4 separate regions of the Homo sapiens genome follow, and regions 1, 2 and 4 are each reported to be linked to region 3. The links are microRNA targets in miRTarBase. Many come from high-throughput screens and were not tested one by one. Region 3 holds a microRNA gene; each other region holds the end of a gene's coding sequence.
Evidence for each region. The annotated mature microRNA hsa-miR-4789-5p reads GUAUACACCUGAUAUGUGUAUG and lies in region 3 at 3,005-3,026, opposite strand. An mRNA with a match to its seed (bases 2 to 7 or 8) in the 3' UTR can be bound and repressed. Matches are read on the target gene's strand: a 7mer-m8 pairs with bases 2 to 8, a 7mer-A1 pairs with bases 2 to 7 and ends in A, and an 8mer does both.

Region 1: miRTarBase lists CSMD1 as a target of hsa-miR-4789-5p. Seed matches in the 3' UTR shown: 7mer-m8 at 1,946-1,952.
Region 2: the mRNA of DLX2 is a reported target of hsa-miR-4789-5p. Seed matches in the 3' UTR shown: 7mer-A1 at 3,200-3,206.
Region 4: the mRNA of TANK is a reported target of hsa-miR-4789-5p. Seed matches in the 3' UTR shown: 7mer-A1 at 990-996 and 7mer-m8 at 1,378-1,384.

What each region holds. Positions count from the first base shown.
Region 1 is chr8:2,934,455-2,939,963 of GRCh38, forward strand. It overlaps CSMD1 (CUB and Sushi multiple domains 1), which reads right to left. Exons shown (of 70, transcript NM_033225.6): 70 at 907-4,290. The coding sequence ends at 4,131. The region is part of intron 6 of LOC105377785 (a long non-coding RNA gene); the gene reads left to right. Among named protein-coding and RNA genes, the nearest start is that of LINC03021, 210 kb to the left of the region's middle.
Region 2 is chr2:172,096,510-172,102,018 of GRCh38, forward strand. It overlaps DLX2 (distal-less homeobox 2), which reads right to left. Exons shown (of 3, transcript NM_004405.4): 2 at 4,953-5,137; 3 at 2,929-4,435. The coding sequence ends at 4,034. Among named protein-coding and RNA genes, the nearest start is that of DLX2, 3.6 kb to the right of the region's middle. RefSeq lists a silencer at 2,604-2,833.
Region 3 is chr3:175,367,069-175,372,577 of GRCh38, reverse strand. It overlaps MIR4789 (microRNA 4789), which reads right to left and starts at 3,038; the gene lies at 2,957-3,038. The region is part of intron 5 of NAALADL2 (N-acetylated alpha-linked acidic dipeptidase like 2); the gene reads right to left.
Region 4 is chr2:161,234,754-161,240,262 of GRCh38, forward strand. It overlaps TANK (TRAF family member associated NFKB activator), which reads left to right. Exons shown (of 8, transcript NM_001199135.3): 8 at 589-1,477. The coding sequence ends at 765. All of the region lies in intron 3 of PSMD14-DT (PSMD14 divergent transcript), which reads right to left. Among named protein-coding and RNA genes, the nearest start is that of LINC01806, 7.2 kb to the right of the region's middle. RefSeq lists an enhancer at 3,631-4,187 and silencers at 4,019-4,388, 4,479-4,548.

The DNA.
Region 1 (5,509 bases), not on the chromosome of region 3:
AAAAATGAGAAAGTTGAAGCAAGAGAAACCTGACCTGTAATATCAGCTCTGCCTATCTGTGTGTCGTTGGGTAAACCAACCAACTTATTTAACTTCCTGCTTCTTCATCTAAATTATCAAAGTGGCAAAACCCTCTCGGTTGGATTATGGGGGTTTTGCAACGTCTGCGAGTCACAAAGTGCAGTGTCTCGCGCTCGGTATTTCCTCAATAAATGGCACCTAAATGCAGTTGCTGGCCAGCAAGACTCAGATTGCAAGTTGGACATCAAAACTTGGTCGCTGCGAAGCCACCGTGGGCTATTTTGGAAATATTATTGGTTGTTTTTCATTTTGTAATAACTTGACTCTCAGAGAAAGTAGTGTATCATTCTGTTGAACTGCAAGACATTCGGCGTGATGGGCCACCAAGGACGTGTAAAGCATTGTGTTTTCTGTCAGCCCAGAAATGAACGGGGGACCGCTGGTTCTGAGTTTAAAAAGCGGTTTGATTTTTTTGAGCCTTCTTTAAATGTGTTATTTGGAGTGCTCTGTTAAGTAGGTCTATAATTCTCTTTCATGTCATTTTTTTAGTGTGGTGAACGTTTACAAACAGAGCTCCCAAATTGAAAAGAAATCATAAAAAAACATAGGTTTTGGTTTGGAGGAAACCAAGTTTTCTTACCGTTTTTAATGTGAACCATCAAGAAATCTGTCAGCTTCAACGTTACTATTCTGTGTCTCATGGTTCCTGCTAAATGTGCTATTGATTAATCATGACGATGATGTGAATGTCGTGGGAAAAATATGGAGCTTCATTTTGAATATCCTAAAGGCTCATTATGAAGACTCCCATTCCTTCCCTCCCCTGCAAGGGACTCAGGTGCGCATATTAAAGTGAAAATAAATTCACACAGAAAAATAGAAATCTAAAATTAAATATTTAATTAGAACTCTGATTTGCTTTAAAGATTGGTGGCATTGCACAGGCTATATTACACCCTCTTTATAATTTTTTTGACAAAAAAAAGATACTGTTCATTTTAACAGGCCACTTTAATATTAATACATGTGTAATAGGATTGGAACTGAAAATCAGCTAGAGATGGTACATTTTACATTATTGGGAAAATTACAGTTCTGTATTGTAAAAACATTTATTTTTTAACAATGTACCTACATTAATCAAAAAATTACAGCATATTTAATAATTTTACAAATTCTTCATAAAAAATATATCTCTGTACAAAAAGGTCTTTCGCACCTACGTCGTGACAGCAGCGTGTGGTGGGACGGGAGGGAGGGTCGGCGATGACAATGGGTTTTCCTGATCATAATGCCAGCGTTCTTTTTTTTACCCCCTTTTTATAATAGCTTTTTGTTGTTGTTTACAAAATATTTTACAGAAGAAAAAAATTATTGCAGCTAGCCTGAAAAAAGGCAAGATGTGTGTGTAAAACAAGCAGCAGTTTTAAACAGCTCTGAAGCACGTGTCCTCTGTTAGTGTGTGGTCGCGTCCCTCACGCGTGTTCCCGTTGCCTTCAGGGAAGAGTCTTCTAGACCTAACTCAGCAAGCACAGCTCCTGACTGCCCTAAAATGAGATCCTCCAACACCTTGCGGAGACGCCGTTCAACACTGCACACAACCTTAGGAAGAAACTAGGCAGAATTCTCACACGAGAATTTCACTGATTTTTTTTTTCATTTAAATAACATGCTTCAAACTGGCAACCCTAGGACAGTTTGACTTTGCACACAAAGGAAAATCATATCTAATTTGATATGTGGTTTCTTGTATGTATGTATGTCCTGTCATTTCAGGATTTCATAGCATCGTTGACCAGGGAGCAGGTCAGGGATATGGGAACAGAGATGTTAATTCAGACTCTGAAGTCAGCATTTTGCACCTAGTTTGAATGACTCAAACTTAGATATGTACAATATATATATATATATATGTATGTATATATATACACTAATATGTATAGTAACCCTGTTCTCCCTTGCACACGAGCCTCCTCACACTTTCAATCATCTTCTGTTTCGTTCAATGTGTGTGTTAGGAGCACGACTCCCGCTGACCTCGTCCCGTCTACTGTGAAACAGCAATGTAAGGATTCCCACTGGCAAAGCAAATCTCCAAGGATGTGGGCAGGTTGGCCAGGGAAAACTGTGCAGAGAATTCAGCATAATGATACAGAATCCAACAGCGTGGGGTTCACAAGACAAAGGAGTCCCTAGGAGAGGCCAGTGAGTCCCCAAACAGCAGAGACCCTTTCGACCGAGGAACACAACACTGGGAGCCGAGCTCTACGGAAATGTCCGAATCAAAACGCGTGACTCTCCAAAGAATGCCCCATTTTCCTGACTGCTTTTCCTTTTCCACATTTGAAGTCCTACATGGAAACCTTCAGTACACCAACAGATAAATCAGTCTTAAAGCTAGGTGTCAATGTGTTCACTCCGACAACGTGAAGGCCAATTTGAACATTCTGACATTTCTATTACCAACGCCAATCTAAAATGTGAAACAGAGAAAATCTGCCACAATTGAATAGGAACTGAAATATCAAATAATAAAATAAGTACTATCGTTTCAAAAATATTTTTATCAAATAAGTATAAGTAAAAGTAAACATGATTTTCACTTTGAATTTGTTACATAAACTACCTCACGGCCACATCTTCTACTTCATGTTTTGATTTTTATTTGCCCTGGGGATCTTATAGATTTTATTTGCATCATAACTTATCATTTACCTATAATGGAATTTAAACTTGAAAAGTCACTGAAATTACCTTTCCATCTGGAATCATAAAGCATGAAACAAATAACAAATGAATGTATAAAATATATCATTGTGAGAGGAGAGTGTGTGTACTTTTTCCTTCCCTCTAAAAGAACACTTGGTATTTTGATCCTGAACAATTTTCACTGAGTTCAAGGTGCTACTGTGGTATATTGTCTTTCAATGCAATATCAAAGATCGATGGCACAGTAAAAGACAAAAAAAAAAAAAAACAAAAAAAAAACACTGCAAAAGGGAAGGCTGCATTGTGAGCTAAAACCCACAAGTTCATCGACTATCTAAAATAAATTACTATTCACAGTTTTACATGGCAAACAGAAATTTCTGCAAACCCCCTGCTATTAAGTAGTATCAGAGAGACAGTAATTGGATGAGGATGGTACTAAAGGAGGAAAACGTGTGAAATAAGGAGGCTTCTGTTTTTTTCTCATTGGACCTCTTCAATGAATTCAACACGTAAATGGAGCTAATTGAAGCAATAATAAAATAAATCTCTTCAATACTGTATTTCCTTTTAAAATCTGTGCCATATCTAGGAATACTTTTCCCTAACACTCCAACTAAGCTGATGGGGGAATGTTTAGCTTGATAATATGAAATAATGCTTATATACAATGGATAGTGTGTATAAACCCTGTGTAAATAATTTATTTTTTTTATCAGAATCTTAGTCATTCATAACACACTAGTGCAAAAAATTGTGCATTAAACATTCTGCGACAGAACAGCTGACTGGGAAATTGCAAACATCCCTAGAGATGAACACACAGGGGAGCTGTGAGGTCCTCAAAGCTTGTCAGGTCTCGGAAGGACAGAGTGAAGCATTTGTAGGTGTGAGCCTCTATCAGAAAGGTGTCTTCTTCCAGAAAGCTTTTTATTTTTTTCAGAGTATTCGTGTTCATGGGGGTTTAAAAAGGAAAAACAACACAAGAGAACACATATCGTGGTGCCACCATTCTGTCACCGCACCTGAGGGACATATCCACGAGCCCAGACGATTGCATTGAAAGGCATCTCAGCAACACAGAAATATGAAAGTCTGAGGCATTGAGTATGACGTGTTGGCGCGACGTGGCAGTCTTCCTGGAGTGTGCCTTGATTTCATACAGATGCAGCCAGGCATTTAGAACCCACTTTTGGAATGAAAACGCATGTGTAGTTTGATCCGTAGAAGACCCTGACACATTTGAGTAGAGATCCCCGCTGCACTTATGCCAGTAGACAAGGTTGAAGATCGCTGCAGTAAAGCCAGAGTGGAAGGGAGAGTGGTATATGGCACCAAAGGAATCACTGCTTGTCCATCAGAGGTATGGCTATGAATCAGTCCTGTTGGGGCACTGAGGGCTATACCACTGTACAGACTGTGTTCAGAGTTGTGTCAAACCTCACAGCCTTGGCTTCTGTGGGTTTTAAGTTTGTATCATACATGGGGTTTTCAAACGATGCTTGTCCATTGCTGTTTTCATGCCCAGCATAGCCATTGTATTGAACTTTTGGTCTCGTTCTAAGGAAAACAGAAAACAAATCATTAGAATCCTGGTTTCATTTGCAGATTTAGCAGCTGGGACTGTGTGCAGGAGACAACGTCTACAGAGCAGGGAGCAGTATAGCCAGGACGTTTGCAAAGAAGGAAGGCATCCACACCTGCACACCTGTCAGTTTATTTGCTTAAATTGGTGATTGGGAGTATAAAATGGGTTTTAAAAAGTGAATCGATTTCAAAAATTAAATAAAATTTTTTTGAGACAGGGTCTCACTCTGTTACCCAGGCTGGAGTGCAGTGGCACGACCACCACTCATTTCAGCCTTGACCTCTTGGGCTCAGGCGATCCTCCCACCTCAGCCTCCTGGGTAACTGGGATCAAAGATTTACTTATGCTTCCTACAAATGCCCCAGGGAAATCGGGAAGGTCCCAAAGGCTGAATCGGATTGGTTTTGTTTTGGATGTCTATTTATCACTGATAAGTTATACGGCCTTGGTTAAGACACGAAACTTTCTACTACTCTGTAAAACAGGGTTGTGGGCATATGCCTAGCCTTTAGCACGGTATGCTTACACTAAATTTCAAGTTTAAGCTTTTAGTTCACTGTCGTTACTAATATTCACAAAAAGTTATTTTTTATTTTGCCTCTGTTGAGTTAAAAATGAATCTTTATAAAAAAGGAACTATACTCATTATTAAACTGTTGTCACATTTTCTGGTTAAAAGAAAACCCCTACGTACAATCTATGATTAGAGAATTAGAGGATTTTCAGACTGAAAAGACAGAATCATGTCTGGTCTGCTCTGTCTCTGTTTATTCTTTCCTTATTCCAGAAGAAATCAGGTAAGAAAAATGTGCCACGTGGCAAAACCAGAAATTTAATGTACATAAGCACGCTCGCAAAAACATCATTTGACATTGGGCGTCAAGAAACTTCTGCCGAGACATTTACTAGATTTCCTTATGTTACACATGCTCATTAAGAAAAAGAGAAGTACGTGGCACATGGCTCTGAGAAAAAGGCAGAACAGCACTTTGTGACTGCCCTTGGAGTGGGAGAGGTCCGTGACATTGTGCTTGGAACATGCGCCAGCAGTGATCGTTAGCAAACAAATCCAGCCCCTCGTCAATGAAGTGAAGACCTGGCTAAAATGTTCACTCAATCGTCCAGATCACAAGCTGCCACAGTCCCTTCATGTGTAGGGAAATGCAATCCCAGAGTGGAACTGGCTGCAGC
Region 2 (5,509 bases), not on the chromosome of region 3:
CCAGCGGAGCGCCGTGCTGGGGCGAGGTGGCTGTGGGCAGAGCGTGCACCGGGGTTGGGGGGAGAAGGGGATTGAAGGGGCGGGGGGCGCGGGAGTACCTGGGCGGCAGGCAGTTGGCCCTGGAGCTCAGTGCCCGCGTTCTGCCTGAGTTGGGAGAGCCCTGCCAGAGGGTGGAGCGGAGAGGGCCGTGCACCCCTCACTCTTCAGCTTCCCTCCCCCTGCTTCCCAGCGCTTGTCATATCCTGTCTCTGGCCTGATATTTCACGCGAGCAATTGGAAGGAGATTACAATGGAGATTTATGTGTGTTCTGAGCACTGCTAGTTTCCCAGCGTAGAGAGCCGAGATCGCTGCTTCCCATTTCCATTTTTCATTCGCGCTTTGGGGAGCTCAGTAGAGCACGGGGGGAGCGTGTCTGCGCGGCGGCGGGCTGATCACAGGACTCCGCGTCTCCGGGCGGGCCGGGAGACTGTGAGAAAGGCTTGCCAGCGCGTCGCCCCCGGCGGGGCTGGAGCCGGCCCCCGCCTCCAGGAGCCAGGCTTTGTTTCCTCCCTTGCCTACCCCTCCCCCTTTCCGCCCCCTCATTTCTGGGACCTGGGCGCGTCCTTGCAACCCCTTCTCTTTGCCCTTCTCGTGGTCTGCGGAAACACCCCCTTCCTCTGGCCCCTTCACCCTCCTGCTCTCGGCTTCGCAGGCTCCCTGGGGAAAGGCACACCGTGGCCCGGCCCGACCCTGTCGTCACTGGGTGCCGGGTAAGGTGACTCCGGCGAGTCTGTGGGGCCTCAGCCCACCCCGGAGCTGGGAGCTCCCGCCCTCCCGACTCCCAGGCTTGGCTCATGCCAAGGCCTGTTGCGTGATTCCAACTTGGGCTGACATTCCCTGCCCCGGGCTCTCCAGCGTAGGCCTCTTAATCATCTTGTCTGCTGCAGATCCTCGACACCAGCCAATTTACTGCCCGTCTCTCCCCGCTGGTTTCGGGAGGAGGGAGGGGAGTGCGTGCAAAGGAGGGGAGGGCACAGTCACCCTCAGGAGGAAGGCTGGCACCAGTTAGTGGCACTAAAAAGAAAAAAAAAACAAAAAAAAAAGAAACAAAACCCACAGAATTTGGAGCTGGGGTGCGGGTGGTGGACAGGGATGGGGGTCTGCCAGGCAGCGGTTGCTTAGGGAAACCCAGGATCATAGGTCAATGGGCTTCAACCCAGGCCTCCCTAGCCTGGGAAAACAATGCAAAAATGCAATGGGACACTGGATCGTGTAGCCCCCCTGCTTTTTCCAAAGCCGCAACTCTCTGGACCGCATGGTTGTAAACCAGACTCAGAGAAGGCCCCAAAGCAATCTGCTCAGAAAAGTCATGATTCTCCTCAGGATGATGCCACTGAGCCCAGAAAGTCACCTCCGCCCCGTGTCTGGTTTTGGCAGATAAGTTGAAGACACACAGCACAGATGGCCTCATCCTAGAGGAGACGAAGCCTGGACCTGGCAGGCGGGGCTCTGTGGCTGGCACCCAGCCCCTCTGCAGTAGGGGAGAATCCCTTCAGAGGGCATGGCTGAGGTTCAAACCCCAGGTAGGAAGGGGCTTTCCCAGCCCCAGGATGTTGCTCTTCCACACAAAGTGAAGTTGGAAAGCCTCTGGGTAACTGTGGGTTTCATACCCCTCTCTGGGGGTAGTGAAAAAACAGTAATACTAAATATTAAATAGATATAATTTAGTGAGTTGTTACCATGTGCCAGGCACTGTTACACTGTTGCCTCATTAAATGCTCACAACTGCAAGCTATAGCTGTTAATATTTCTCCTATCTTACAGATCTGCAAACTGTAACACAGGGTGGTTAAATGGGTTCCCCAAGGTCACACAGTCAGTGATTGAAGCCAGGAAGCTTCCAACTGCGGGCCCTAGCACTTTCAGGGAAAGGCCCTAGCACTTTCAGGGACCTTCATTAACCACCAACCCCTGGCCTTTGTAGGGAATGCCAGAAAGCAGGGTCACCTCCAAAGTTGTAAGCTGGTTGTGTGGGGCCCAAGGTAGAAAGCAGAGCCCAGTGGTGTGTGGACATCCCCCCCACCAAGAGTATGAAGTGGAAAGATGCCACTCTCATACCAGTGTATATAAGTCTGTGAGTAAGTATACATGAGTGTGCATATGTGAGTTTGTCTATCAGTGTGTAAGGGTATGAATGCGAGTGTGCATGACTTCGTGTGTCAGTGTTGTAAGAGTGTGATGGAGTATGAGTGTGTGATGTGACGGTGTTCGAGTGTGTGTCATTGTGTGTGCGCCTGAGAATATTTGAGCATGAGTGTGACTGTGAGAGTGTGTATCAGTATGGGTGAGTGTGTGCTAGTATAGATGGGCCTGTGACAGTGTGCTCAGTGTGTGATTGTGTGTTTGCGCGCGCTCGAGCACGGCCCCGTGTCGTTGGGGTCGGCTTGCATTCCAGAGCAGCCAGCCATGCCTCCCGAGGGTGACTCACAGAGCTCTCAGTTCAGTCCCGAAGGGCGGTGGGACAAACGGAGGGGAAGGTTCAAAGTAGGGTTCCGACCCTCAGGCTGCTGCAGAGCTCAGGTCCCTGACAGGAGGTCCCCCGCGGCGGCTGGGGTGCCGAGCCTGGCCATCTAGGCGGGCGCGGGGGCGGTGGCGCCGGCGCCGGAGGGGCAGGGCAGGCGGAGGCTGGAGCCGCTCCGCGCTGAGTGAGTCACCCCGCCGCCGGCCGGAGAATCCCTCGCGGGGACTCGGGAGGGGGCGGGGCGTGAAACCCCCGGTGCGGCCCCACGCCCAGCGCGCCTGTCCTCTCCTTGCCGCACCTCGCGGTGTCGCAGCCTCGGAAAGATGTAAACGTAGCTCTCGGCCGGCTGGCTTCCCGGCCTGGGCAGCGGCTTGAGCTCTGAGCACGTGACTGACCGGACCCTGGCACCAAGAAAAAAGCGCACACATCCAATGAAAACAATAATTTATTTAAATAATCTCTTCATATTGTAAAATCAACATTAAGAGCATGTTGTTTTCATAATAAATAACCCCAAAATACCTTTCATTTCAACAACAAAGACTTTAGGATACGATAAAACAAATCCAAATCAGTAGCTTAATTTAACTGAAATGTTTTTAAAGGAAAAAATAAAAAGGAGGGGTTGCTGAGGTCACTGCTAAACTGCAGTTTTCACAACTGGGGGTTTACAAAAAAGTCTGAAAAGATGAGTATTTTTATACAAATAAATCAGTGGGAAAATCTGCACAGACACCTTTATTTACAAACTCTGTGTCCAAGTCCAGGCTAATAATCCTGAATAGGTTTTAAAAAAGATAATTTAAACACATTTTTGCAGTGTTCACATATTAAAAAATCATTTTTTCAACGTCAAAATGAGGTCATCCGCAAAGGCACCTAAACTTTTAAAAAAATAACAAATAAAAAAACTCCACTGGTGATGGATGAGGAGAGAGCTGAGGGAGCGCTCCTGGGGGAGCGCGGTGGGGGTAAGATAAGGGATGGGGGCTCCGAGGGCTGGGAACTGCAGGAAGGAAAGAAGCGGCGGGGCCGCCCGGGTCAAGGGGCCACGTGGGGGAGGGCGGGCAGGCGGGACCGGGAGGTCAATAACTGCAGCGTCCGAGCTGAGCCCAGGGGAGCGGGCGAGGAGAAAGAAGCCTCAGAGCGCCCGGGAAGCCTCGCGCGCCTGGGAGGCTTCCATCTCCCGGGACCCAGCTCTCAGCCCGGGGCGAGGAAGGCGCCAGACAGGCTCACCCGGAGGGGAGGGAAGGCAAGTCCGAGGCGGGGCTCGAAACAGCCGAGACCCGGGGCTCAGGTCAGAAATGCGGCCTTTTAGGGAGGCCTTTGCCAAGCTGCTGTCCGGTTCCCCCGAGAGAGGGGCCCGTTTGGTGGCCCCGGGAGTGAGCAGGGCCTGAGACGGGCCACTGCAGGTCGCAGCCTGCAGGAGAGGTGGGTGGCGGCAGCGGGCCGGGAGGAGGGAACCCCGGCTCGGGGTAAGCAATGAGGATAAGTGGTCTCTGCTCTCAGTCTCTGGCGAGTTCTCCCTGGGGTTAGAAAATCGTCCCCGCGCTCACCGGGGCGCCCCCGCCGCCGTGATGGTGGTGGTGGTGATGCGGCTGCGGGGTCTGAGTGGGGTGCAGCAGCGGCGCCGTGGCCTGCAGGTGTGAGGCGGATCCCGAGGTCTGGTGGTACCAGGGGTAGTTGCCCAGAAAAGCCGAGGCCGCGCTGCTCGGGCTGGAGCCCGAGCTGCCGGCGCCGCTGCCGCCACTGCCCGGACCACCGCCGCCCGCCATCCGCTGCGGCACACCAAAGTCCCAGGAGGCCGGCGCTGAGACTGGCGGCGAAGCACAAGGTGGAGAAGCGCTGGCCCCAGGGTGCTGCTCCGAGGGGATCTCACCACTTTTCCACATCTTCTTGAACTTGGACCGGCGGTTCTGGAACCAGATTTTGACCTTTGAGGAAAAAGACCTGAGCATTAGTGGAGGAACCTAGTCTTGGGGCAGTAGGGGTTCGAAGAGGAGAAAAAAGAAGGCAGAGAAAAACCGCTGGCTAGCGGTGGGCAGCGAGCGCCCTGGGGAGATAAGAGGATCACGGGCGGCGGCCTTCGAGGCTCTGCCGGTTCCTGCTCCCTGGGGAGGTAATTGCCAAAAGGCCAGGACTGCTGGTGTACGTGCACTGTGATGATGGTGACAGCGGGAGGGTGAGGAGGGCCAGTTATTTCACCCGCTTAATCAGTAGCGAGAGGTACGGGATTTCTGTCCACCCGGTCCCTTTCCTTCCCTCCCACGGCGGCCCCTTGGGGGTTTCCAGCTTTGGGCCTAGAAGCTTACTTAGGGCCGCTCGAGGCGCAGGCCTGGAAATCCTTAAAAGTACTTAAAATGAACTTTAAAAAGCATTGTCCTAAACCCGCCTGCTTCCCAGCCATCTCAGGCCCGCGCTCTCCTCGCCCCTGCAGGGCGCGAGCCCCACCTGAGTCTGGGTGAGGCCCAGAGAGGCCGCCAGCTCGGCTCGCTCCGGCAAGGCCAAGTATTGAGTCTTTTGGAAACGCCGCTGAAGAGCCGCCAGCTGGAAACTGGAGTAGATGGTGCGGGGTTTCCGGACTTTCTTTGGCTTCCCGTTCACTATCCGAATTTCAGGCTCAAGGTCCTCCTTCTCTGCAACGATAAAGAATCGTAAGAACAGCGCAACCCAGGGGTCCTGGAGTTCCCGCCCTCCTAGAGGGCCCGGCGGGGGGGACTTGGCTTGAGCAAAGAGGTGGGTGCACTGAACTGTGGCGCCACGGGCAGGCGCAACTTCGCAGCGTGCGATCGGAGCCGCCACCGACCCCGGGAGCTGTACCCTCCAGGGAAGGGGGAGACAAGTGCACACCCAAGAGAAAGAAGCTGGTGGCAAGGAGATGCCCTTATGAGGCAGGCAGAGCACGCCCACTTGGCTCTTGAGGCCACCAGGTCCTACCAAAGGAGAGAGGGACGTAACCGGCGACCTGCGGCAGATTGGAGGCTGGGGAGGGTAAAGGGCACAAGCGG
Region 3 (5,509 bases):
GCCTTTCTTCTTTCTCCAAGTGGAATATTACAATGATGACTATAGCTTCAGCCTTTATCAGCAACCATGAGGAAAAGACAGAGAGCTTGGGTCTAATATCTTCAAGACACTGAATTAACACCAACGCTTCATTCGATTTCTCATTTTGTGAGAAAAATATTTAGAGAAGTATTTGGAGAAGTCCACTGTTAATGAGTTTTCTGTTACATGAAGGAAAACACGAAACTCTAACTGATACTAGGTAGATATAGAGAATGCACAGACATGCATGTTTTCGCTCCAGAAGGCAGAGCGTGAGCAAGCTAAATATAGCTAGGTATTAGGTCAGTATGATGAAAAATGTAATGATGGAGCTTTACAAAAACTGAATGGGCTAGCTAAAAACATAGCGACTCCTGTACTAGCAGTTCAGTAAAGTCTGCAGGGCAACACGCCAGCTACACTAAATGAGGTCTGCCTAGGAAGCAGTGGAAAAAAAATTTTGTGAACTCCTAAGGGTTATTCCTTTAAACTCTAAGATGCTATGGCTGGACTTTTTTTAGAGTAATTATATTTGTCTATTTCATGTTATGGTAGGAATTTGCCCTAAGGAAGTAGAACTAGTTTAGCTCAGAATGGCAATATTTCTTCTAAAACTTATTAGGAAACTAGAAGGAACGCTTTGTGGATGTAGTTTTCCTAAAGGTCATGCAGAACTTCCAGGTATTACAGATTTTGAAAGATGAATAATAGCCATTTTAGTGGTTATCTTTTTTTTTTTTTAATAGATGGAGTTGTCCAGGCTGGAGGGCAGTGGCATGATCTTGGCTTACTGCAACCTCCGCCTCCTGGGTTCAAGTGATTCTCCTGCTTCAGCCTCCTGAGTAGCTGGGATTACAGGCCCCTGCACCACACCCAGCTAATTTTTGTATTTTTAGTAGAGACGGGATTTCGCCATCTTGGCCAGGCTACTCTTGATCTCCTGACCTCAGGTGATCCACCCGCCTTGGCCTCCCAAAGAGCTGGGATTACAAGCATGAGCCGTCGTGCCCAGCTCATATCATTCTCAAAGGACTTTTGTAGCACACAGAATGGTTTCTAAATAATATTATCCATATCTTGACTAACACGGTGAAACCCCATCTCTACTAAAAATCCAAAAAATTAGCCGGGCGCGGTGGCGGGCGCCTGTAATCCCAGCTACTCAGGAGGCTGAGGCAGGAGAACGGCGAGAACCCGGGGGGCGGAGCTTGCAGTGAGCCGAGATAGCGCCACTGCAGTCCGGCCTGGGCGAAAGAGCGAGTACTCCGTCTCAAAAAATAATAATAATAATAATATCATCCATAATATTAGTTGATAGTCTCTTCATAATTCTAAATCCAGCATTTTTCAAAGCATTACCAATGAAGGAGAACTTTTAAGATGAAGCTAAATATAAAAAAAAAGTGAATTACTGCAAATTACTATACATAGTATAATTTGAAATTTTGGTAATATTGTCTAAGACAAATCATCCTTTTGGGATAGTTTTTTTCCATACTGTTCAAACTACCCTTCATCCTATAACGGCAGACATGGCCTAATGATTCTCATTTTTAATCAACAGTGTTGTCAGACATTTCAATGATTCTGAACATAATGTTATGACATTCAGGGCCAGAGAGCAAGCATTCTCTACTTGCTCTCAGCTGAAAGCAAAGAGGTTCTCAAGAGCTGCCAGCCTTTCTCCTTTATGCTCTGAAAGCCTCCTAAACTTGTCAGTTTACTTCCATTACCCTTTTATTGAAAACAATGAAAGAAAAAAAGTTACTACGGTGTTTATACTTTTAAAGTGAATGTCTTTTGTAATAAGGTAGAAATATCACAGAACCATCGAATGTTGGAATCAGAAGCATGTTTGGCATATCATCAAGTACAATAGCCACATCCTGCCTATGTGGAAAGCTGGAGGGGCTAAAGGACCTCTCAAAGCTACACATGTAGAGTCAGCAGCAGAGCAGAGCTTAAAGCAGCAAGTGACTCTTACGGCCATCAGTAATCACACTCTTGCTTAACATGCAAATGAATAAAGCTATTTTTATAAAATCCCTCCCCCCCCCATATATTGGCAGTAACTCTAAATTCTAGTCATTTTTTAACCATTACAGAATAAGATTAGAAGCATCAGTAGTTAATGGTGATAATAATTTCCATTTTATATGGGGTTTTATGGTTCACAAATATATTTTATAAAATAAGTTTCTAACATTTCATTTTCTTATATTGAGGGCTTTTAAAAGAAATAACCAAAACCTATTTTATTAAAATTTGATATTTAAAATTATAGTTGAGAATAGTGGAAGATTTTTCCCATTATCTTTGCTCTCCTGGATAGCAACCAGATAAATGACTTCCCAGAGAAATGCATAGAGTCATATAAGATAAAACGTCTTTTTTTCTCCATTTTACTCAGAGTTTGATGATGAACTATGACTGGATATTGAAATAATCATTCTTTTATCCTTTGTAGTAAGGCTTACTTTGTCCAGTGGCAACATGATCAGACAAGCAGCTCTCAGATGACATGTGACAATATTAAATTCAATCTTAGCAAGCAGCTTCTCAATTTCACACTTGTGGTAGCTGGATTAACCCAATTATTTTTTGGAGGTTAAGGGAAACTTTCACATTTGCAGAATACCATCCTTCAGAAACCGGAATGTAGGATTTTGTTATCTCAAAGAATTTTATGGAGATGGAAAGATCAGTTAGTATTAAATTTTAGCACACAATCAGATGAAGGGTTTAGGAAGAAGTAGATATGATTACCTAATAATTCACTTTGAGTTCTTCACTTTGAGCCTCAAAAATGTGTGAAACTTGGGACTTTTACTAAGCATATCTTTCAGGCAAAATATTTTCATTGTACCAGTTCCAAGCTCTTGGTTCTAACACAAAACCCCTGCTACACATACACACACATGCACTCACACACACACAGGCTACCTATATATACACCTGCTATGTGTGTGGATATGTATTTACACATACACATATCAGGTGTATACATACGTAGCATGTATATATACACATACACACACACGCACACAGGCACACACATACTTGTTACCTATATATGTATACATGCACATATCAGGTGTATGTAAATGTAACATGTATATGTACACACACGCACACAGGCACACACATACTTGTTACCTATATATGTATACATGCACATATCAGGTGTATGTAAATGTAACATGTATATGTACACACACGCACACAGGCACACACATACTTGTTACATATATAATTACACATGCACATATCAGGTGTATGTAAATGTAACATTTATATATACACACGCGCACACAGGCACACACATACTTGCTACATATATATACAGTCAGGTGCTGCATGATGACATTTTGCTCAAGAACAAATCACATACATGAGGGTGGTTCCATAGATTATAGTGGAGCTGAAAAACTCTAGTGGCATTGTTCTCATTGTGACATTAGTGCAATTACTTAATTTTTAAAACAAATTTAGTGTAACCTAAGTGTACAGTGTTTATAAAGCCTACAGTAATGCATAGTAACGTCTTAGGCCTTCACATTTGCTCACTGCTCATTCACAGATCCACCCAGAGCAACTTCTACTCCCACAAGTTCCATGAAAAGTGCCCTATACAGGGGTGGCAATTTTTTTTAATCTTTTATATCATATTTCGCTGTACCTTTTCTGTGTTTAGATATGTTTAGATATACAAATACCACTGCATTGTAATTGCCTACAGTGTTCAGTACAATAACATGCTATGCAGGTTTGTAGCTTAGAAGTAATAAGCTATACGACATAACCTAGTTGTTTAGGAGGCTACACAATGTGTTTGTGTTATGTGCACTCTATGATGTTCTCTCAACAATGAAGTCACCTAATGATGCATTTCTCAGAAAGCATCTCCATTATTAAATGGCACATGAACGTATTTGCTACATATATACATACTGGCTATAAACACACACACACACACACACACACTCACACACACCTGCTACAGTCCTTTCAAAGTATAAAAAAAGATACCAAAATGTGTTAGAGATTCGTTTGTAAAATGTAACTATTTTCGGACCAGATGGATTCACAGCCGAATTCTACCAGAGGTACAAGGAGGAACTGGTACCATTCCTTCTGAAACTATTCCAATCAATAGAAAAAGAGGGAAACCTCCCTAACTCATTTTATGAGGCCAGCATCATCCTGATACCAAAGCCAGGCAGAGACACAACCAAAAAAGAGAATTTTAGACCAATATCCTTGATGAACATTGATGCAAAAATCCTCAATAAAATACTGGCAACCCGAATCCAGCAGCACATCAAAAAGCTTATCCACCATGATCAAGTGGGCTTCATCCCTGGGATGCAAGGCTGGTTCAATATACGCAAATCAATAAATGTAATCCAGCGTATAAACAGAACCAAAGACAAAAACCACATGATTATCTCAATAGATGCAGAAAAGGCCTTTGACAAAATTCAACAACGCTTCATGCTAAAAACTCTCAATAAATTAGGTATTGATGGGATGTATCTCAAAATAATAAGAGCTATCTATGACAAACCCACAGCCAATATCATAATGAATGGGCAAAAACTGGAAGCATTCCCTTTGAAAACTGGCACAAGACAGGGATGCCCTCTCTCACCTCTCCTATTCAACATAGTGTTGGAAGTTCTGGCCAGGGCAATCAGGCAGGAGAAGGAAATAAAGGGTATTCAGTTAGGAAAAGAGGAAGTCAAACTGTCCCTGTTTGCAGACAACATGATTGTACATCTAGAAAACCCCATTGTCTCAGCCCAAAATCTCCTTAAGCTGATAAGCAACTTCAGCAAAGTTTCAGGATACAAAATCCATGTACAAAAATCACAAGCATTCTTATACACCAATAACAGACAGAGAGCCAAATCATGAGTGAACTCCCATTCACAATTGCTTCAAAGAGAATAAAATACTTAGGAATCCAACTTACAAGGGACGTGGAGGACCTCTTCAAGGAGAACTACAAACCACTGCTCAAGGAAATAAAAGAGGACACAAACAAATGGAAGAACATTCCATGCTCATGGGTAGGAAGAATCAGTATCGTGAAAATGGCCGTATTGCCCCAGGTAATTTATAGATTCAATGCCATCCCCATCAAGCTACCAATGACTTTCTTCACAGAATCGGAAACAACTCTTTAAAGTTCATATGGAAGCAAAAAAGAGCCCGCATCGCCAAGTCAATCCTAAGCCAAAAGAACAAAGCTGGAGGCATCATGCTACCTGACTTCAAACTATACTACAAGGCTACAGTAACCAAAACAGCATGGAACTGGTACCAAAATAGAGATATAGATCAATGGAACAGAATAGAGCCCTCAGAAATAACGCCGCATATCTACAACTATCTGATCTTTGACAAACCTGAGAAAAACAAGCAATGGGGAAAGGATTCCCTATTTAATAAATGGTGCTGGGAAAACTGGCTAGCCATATGTAGA
Region 4 (5,509 bases), not on the chromosome of region 3:
TTGTGTTTTTAAAAACAAAAGATAACATCAGTGAAATTTGTTCAGTAGTTTAAAAGGAAAATTTTCTTTTTAAAAATCAAAATAATGCTGATTCATGTATGATGTATTCACTGTATTTGCTTATAAACAGTAGTGAAATTGATTTTGATTAAGACGCAATGCACACACACATCATGTCTTGTGTACTATGTAATTAATAAAGCCCCTATAATTTAAGGTTTTTATTGTAAAAAACAAAAGATAGAATTTAATTTAAAAGACCAGAGTATTAGCTATTGTTCCAAAACTACTGCTGTTGTGATCGAGTATTAAAAATTGCATGCTAAAGCTGCAATCTTTTTAAATATATAAAGATAAAATGCATGACTGTGTGTGTCCCAAGTGACTTTTAATCAAAGTTTAGTTGTGCCCTTTATGAAACCACGAATTGAGTCATGTCATGCTAACTTTACGGAAAAGTAATTTGCTTTTATATTAGGGAATTCAATATATATGCCCATGCGTAACTCATTCAGAAATTCAAATTTGAAGTCCAGTGCTATTTGAATTTAAACATAAGTAACAGATATTTTTGTTTGTTTCCTGCAGCCCATTTGGAAGCCCTTTCCTAATCAAGACAGTGACTCGGTGGTACTAAGTGGCACAGACTCAGAACTGCATATACCTCGAGTATGTGAATTCTGTCAAGCAGTTTTCCCACCATCCATTACATCCAGGGGGGATTTCCTTCGGCATCTTAATTCACACTTCAATGGAGAGACTTAAGACACATTTGAAAACAGACATATCAAGTTCTATGTGATGATTTTGGGTTTTTAATACTATAAATACTTGATTGTAAACTAAATTCAAGATCATTTATAGGAAAATCTAGTTTCACAGCTATTTGAATTTTTTTCTGGATTTACTATATAACTCTTATTTTTTAAAAGATCATTCTGTTCTTTCAAGGAGAAATAAGCCTAAAAGAAGAAAAACAAAAAAAATTCTGTATAAAACTGTAATCCTTTGTATTCATGTTTACAGTGCTATTACTATAATTCAAAATTATGTATGTGACTTAGAGTTATATAATCATAATTTATGTTTATTTCAAATATCTAAGTTTATTGCTTGGATTTCTAGTGAGAGCTGTTGAATTTGGTGATGTCAAATGTTTCTAGGGTTTTTTTAGTTTGTTTTTATTGAAAAATTTAATTATTTATGCTATAGGTGATATTCTCTTTGAATAAACCTATAATAGAAAATAGCAGACAACATAAACATCTTTGTAAATATCAAACCTAATACATTTCTTGTCCAGTGATAAAACAACTGGTAGAATTATTTAAACACTTTAGATTTTTAAATAATATACATGGCTTTAATTTTTACTGTGTGTATAGCTACATGATGAAATTAATTAAATATTAAGAGGTACTTATGTTGTGATCATTTGTATGTCCTTTGTTCCTGAGTAAAAAAAAAAAAAAAAAAAGGGAAGGAAGGAATCACATTTTTAGGGAAGTTTATAAAATTCATGTTTTCATTTCAGTAACCTAATAGAATGGTGATGACCAGATTTGGTGGCATTTATTACAATTAGTGAATCACTTTGAATTTTAGAATTATTCTTCAAACTAAACTTTCTAAAGAAACATTTGTTTTTAACGGGAGAAAATCTAAAACCCTGCAAGGACTATCTATATTTGTTAACTTAGATTAGAAATGTTCATATTCTTGTTGAGAAATTTGTTATTCATTGTTAGCAGCCTGATTGATGGCCACTGAAGACATTTGAGAGAGTGGATACCAAATTCAGACGGCTGCAAAATTTGTTTAAAATGAGACTTCCCTTTCATTTTTATTCCCTATGATTCTCGCCTTATAGGTTTCTGTTTTCCCCTGATTCTTAAAAGTGTTTAAGGCATGGCTTCCATTTTATGAAGTAAGCATTGATTTGCAACTCTCAGAAATTTAAGCCTTCTTGAAGCAAGTGCTTTAAACTAGAGGGTGTGGGATGGGGGAATTTGAGCAGGCCTCTGTGCCACAGTGAAGAACCTTAACTTGTGGAAGAATGAGAGTGGTGCCTCGACTTCTCCTGGTGCCAAGCACATCATATTGACATGTTCCTCACCAGGGTGACAGTAATTATTAGGTATTCACTGCGAAGGGTTCTGAGGTATGTACATCTTTCTTTCATTGCCACTAGGGCTGAATGGAAATGCCTAGACAATTATCCAAGTTTCTTCCCTTCCCCCCACTTCCCGCCCACCCAGCCTCCCTTCTCCGCGCGCGCGCACACACACACACACACACACACACACACACACACACACACACAAAATTAAAAATAAAAACTTCCCAGCGTGTACCAGCCAGAATATACCACTGTACCTATCTGGTGAAAGGGGATTCTTTTTTTCCCCTGTCCTTTTCTAGATGGGAAGACTTTCTCTCAACACAGTTGACATCTACTAGCTTGCTGACAACCAGAGGAAACTCCGTGTCCCAGAAGGTGACTCAAATTAAAGTGTACCATTGACCTTCCTCCCCAGCCCATCCTTTCCCCGCCCCCACCACTTTTAGCAGGACTAGCAAACTCGGTTTTCTTCTGGATTCCAGCGGCACCCTAAGCTCCACGTGGTGAGGGACATAGACCCTTTGGGGCCACAGGAAAGGCAGCCTGGAGAGCAGCCCCCTGCCCTGCTCTACAGAGGGAGCGCGGGTCACCGCTCTAAAGGTGGAGTGGGCACCCGCCAGGTCTCTCCCTCTGTCTCATGACTGAGTCGTGCAGGGTCTGGCTTTTGGCATCTGCTAAGCGTGGCCGGGTAAGAACAGCTCCCAGGTAAAAAAGCTGCACACGCGAAACGCCGAGTCTGAAAAAACCACCCCCGCCGAGGCGAGGCAGTTGTGAGCGGGATGCCTGAGAAGTGGGAGGTGAATGTCCTCGGGAGGGCCCCCCCGGTGCAGCTTTCCCCGGAGGCTGAGGCTGCTGCCAGCGGGGACATCTGCTTTCTTACACTCCAGCCTGGCTCACCCCGCCCCCTCAGCCCCGGGTTGCGTGGTTATTTTACCAACACGGGGGGAGGGAGAGCTCGAGGAGGTAGAAAAGGGGTGGATAGAAGCTTAGAAGATTTTCTTCCCACTCCCCCCACGTCCCCTCCTTTCGTCACATCTTTTAACCTTCAAGGTAAAGACTTAAGGAAACAATAAGCGTGTCCGCTGGCTCGCAGGCCCGCCGGGGTTCTCGGGCGCGGGGCCTTGCCCCTCTCCATCCTCCCTGAGTCCTTCCCCGAGTCGGGCCGTGCTTCGGCGGTTCGGCTGGGCGCAGGGGCCGGCCGGGCGCGCCCAGCCTGTGGCGCCTCCTCTCCCGGGCTGCTGCCTCGACAGCTGCTTGTAGCTACAGTAATTAGACTGTCAGTGCTTGTTAGAGGAGAGAGGGGAAAACACGCTTCTGACAGCAGATTCCAAGACTCCCCAGTTTGTTAATTTCTAAGAGATCTTTAAAGCATTAATTGAGGTCTCCCCAACTCTCCCCTCCCGTCCCTCTCTGCAACTCCTCCCTTCCCAAAAATATCTTTAGGAGAAGCGAGTTCTCTCGGCGTGGAAGCAGTGTTTCCCGCAAAACTGCCAGCCCGCCCCCCGCTCACGCACAGACACCCAATTTCCCATATACAGATAAATGCACACATGTATACGCGAAAGGTTAACTCGGCGGAGGACTCGCCCAAATAAGCACCGGGATTGCATTTAAAATAATAATAATAAATAAATAAATAAACTAGGAAGGAAAGCGGGGGGAGGGAAGCAGAAGTCGGGAAGAAAAGAGAAAAGCAGCAGGCTGATTACGAGGTGTCAAAACTGCCAGGAGCAAGAAGGTGATAGCAATCAGGGGTGAGAAGAGTGCGGCATTCGTGCGGGGCAACTAATTATCCGTCTCATTTGAGAAGAGCAGCATTTGAGGCAGCAGCGTTCGCCTGCTGAACGGTGACAGATTGGCGCGGAGGAGAGGGGAGGTGTTAAAACAATGGAGCCGGGCGCGCGAGCGCTGCTGCATGCTAATCAGCCCTCCCTCCGCCTGCCTGCCGCGCTCCCTCCTTCCTCCCGGCCTCCCTCCTCCGCGCTCCCTCCTCCCGCCTGCGGCGCTCCCTCCTTTCCAGCGGGCCCCGCGCCGCCGCCGCCACCCGCTTCCTGCTCCCTCGCTTTCCCGCGCGTCCTTCCCGCCGCTGGCGAGTGGAACCCAGCCACCGCCACCGAGTCCCTAGCGGGCCAGGAGCCCCCGCGCGGCCCCCAGCGCCGGCCCGGTGGAGTGCAGCCCCGCGCGGGCTCGCCCGAGGGCTCGGCCTGCGCCGCGCGCCCACTCCCCGGGGCGGTGGGGCGAGGACCCGCGCTCCGGGATCCACGTACTGGGGAAGCGGCCGAAGAGCCTGCGTTCTCACGCCCACTCGCTGTCTGGTGAATCGACCGCGTCGGCCAGCGAGCGCGACTGGGAGTCCAGGCGAATTCAGAAAGGGCTAGGGCCAGCCAGGGGTGAAAAGAGTGACAGGGCCACAAAGGCCAAGAAGGGCTCCAGGACTGAGCGCAGATCTCCTGCCCTGCCCGAGCGTGGCCGCCACCCCGAGGCCTCCAGCCGCCCCCAACCCGCCCTGCAGTGGCCGCGCCCCGCTGGCCTGCGGCGAGTCGGCGAGGTCAGCGCCCCCCGCCACGCCTCGCGCGCTGCGGCTCTTAGACCCCTGGAGCCCCTTTTTTGCCAGAGCTACCGGTCCACGGTTTAAATGATCGCAGCGAAGATACATAAAGGGCCTTAGCATTAGCTGTGCTTCCAAGGCCTGACCTCCTGACCCCAAGACTAGATTAAGGGGCCGTCTGGGCCTCGAGAGTTCCCTCGAAAGACCGTCGCGGGGAGAGAAGGGCCTGGAAAGAAGCGGGCCGCGCTCCCCCCTGCCGCGAAGACTGTGGGGCAGATGGGGGCAGGACCTGATCTGGAGGCCCAGCTCCCCGCCTGGCCGCTCTGTTCTATACTCTGGCCCGAGACAAGCTAGTCAAAAACAGCAGCGCCCTGGCCGCCCCTCCGACAAAGAGCCCATCGGAACCCGAGTCTGCTGAAAAAAGCCTTTCATACCTGTTGATGCAGGCGGGGACCTGAGATTTCATACAACCTCCTGTTACTTTTTGACCGTAAAAGCTGATTGTTGCACTTAAAAGGCACTTTTATTCCTACCATTAAAATATTTTTACTGTTACGGGTTTACATAAACTACCCTTATAAACATCATAAAACTTCCTTCCCCGTAAGCCATAGATGGACCTCCAGAGTAACTAAAAACCTGTGCAGTGTAATTGTTTCTTCTGCTGACCCCTACCTTTGCATAACTTTATACACACCATTGTTCCTTTTTAAAAAATCAATTTAAAATAAGGTTTGCTAAAGCTCAGTCATATATACACAAAGGTTTCATTTATATTATTCTGCTTTGTAATATTTCATGATAAAAGTACACAAAAATGAAATTAAAATGAGTAAATT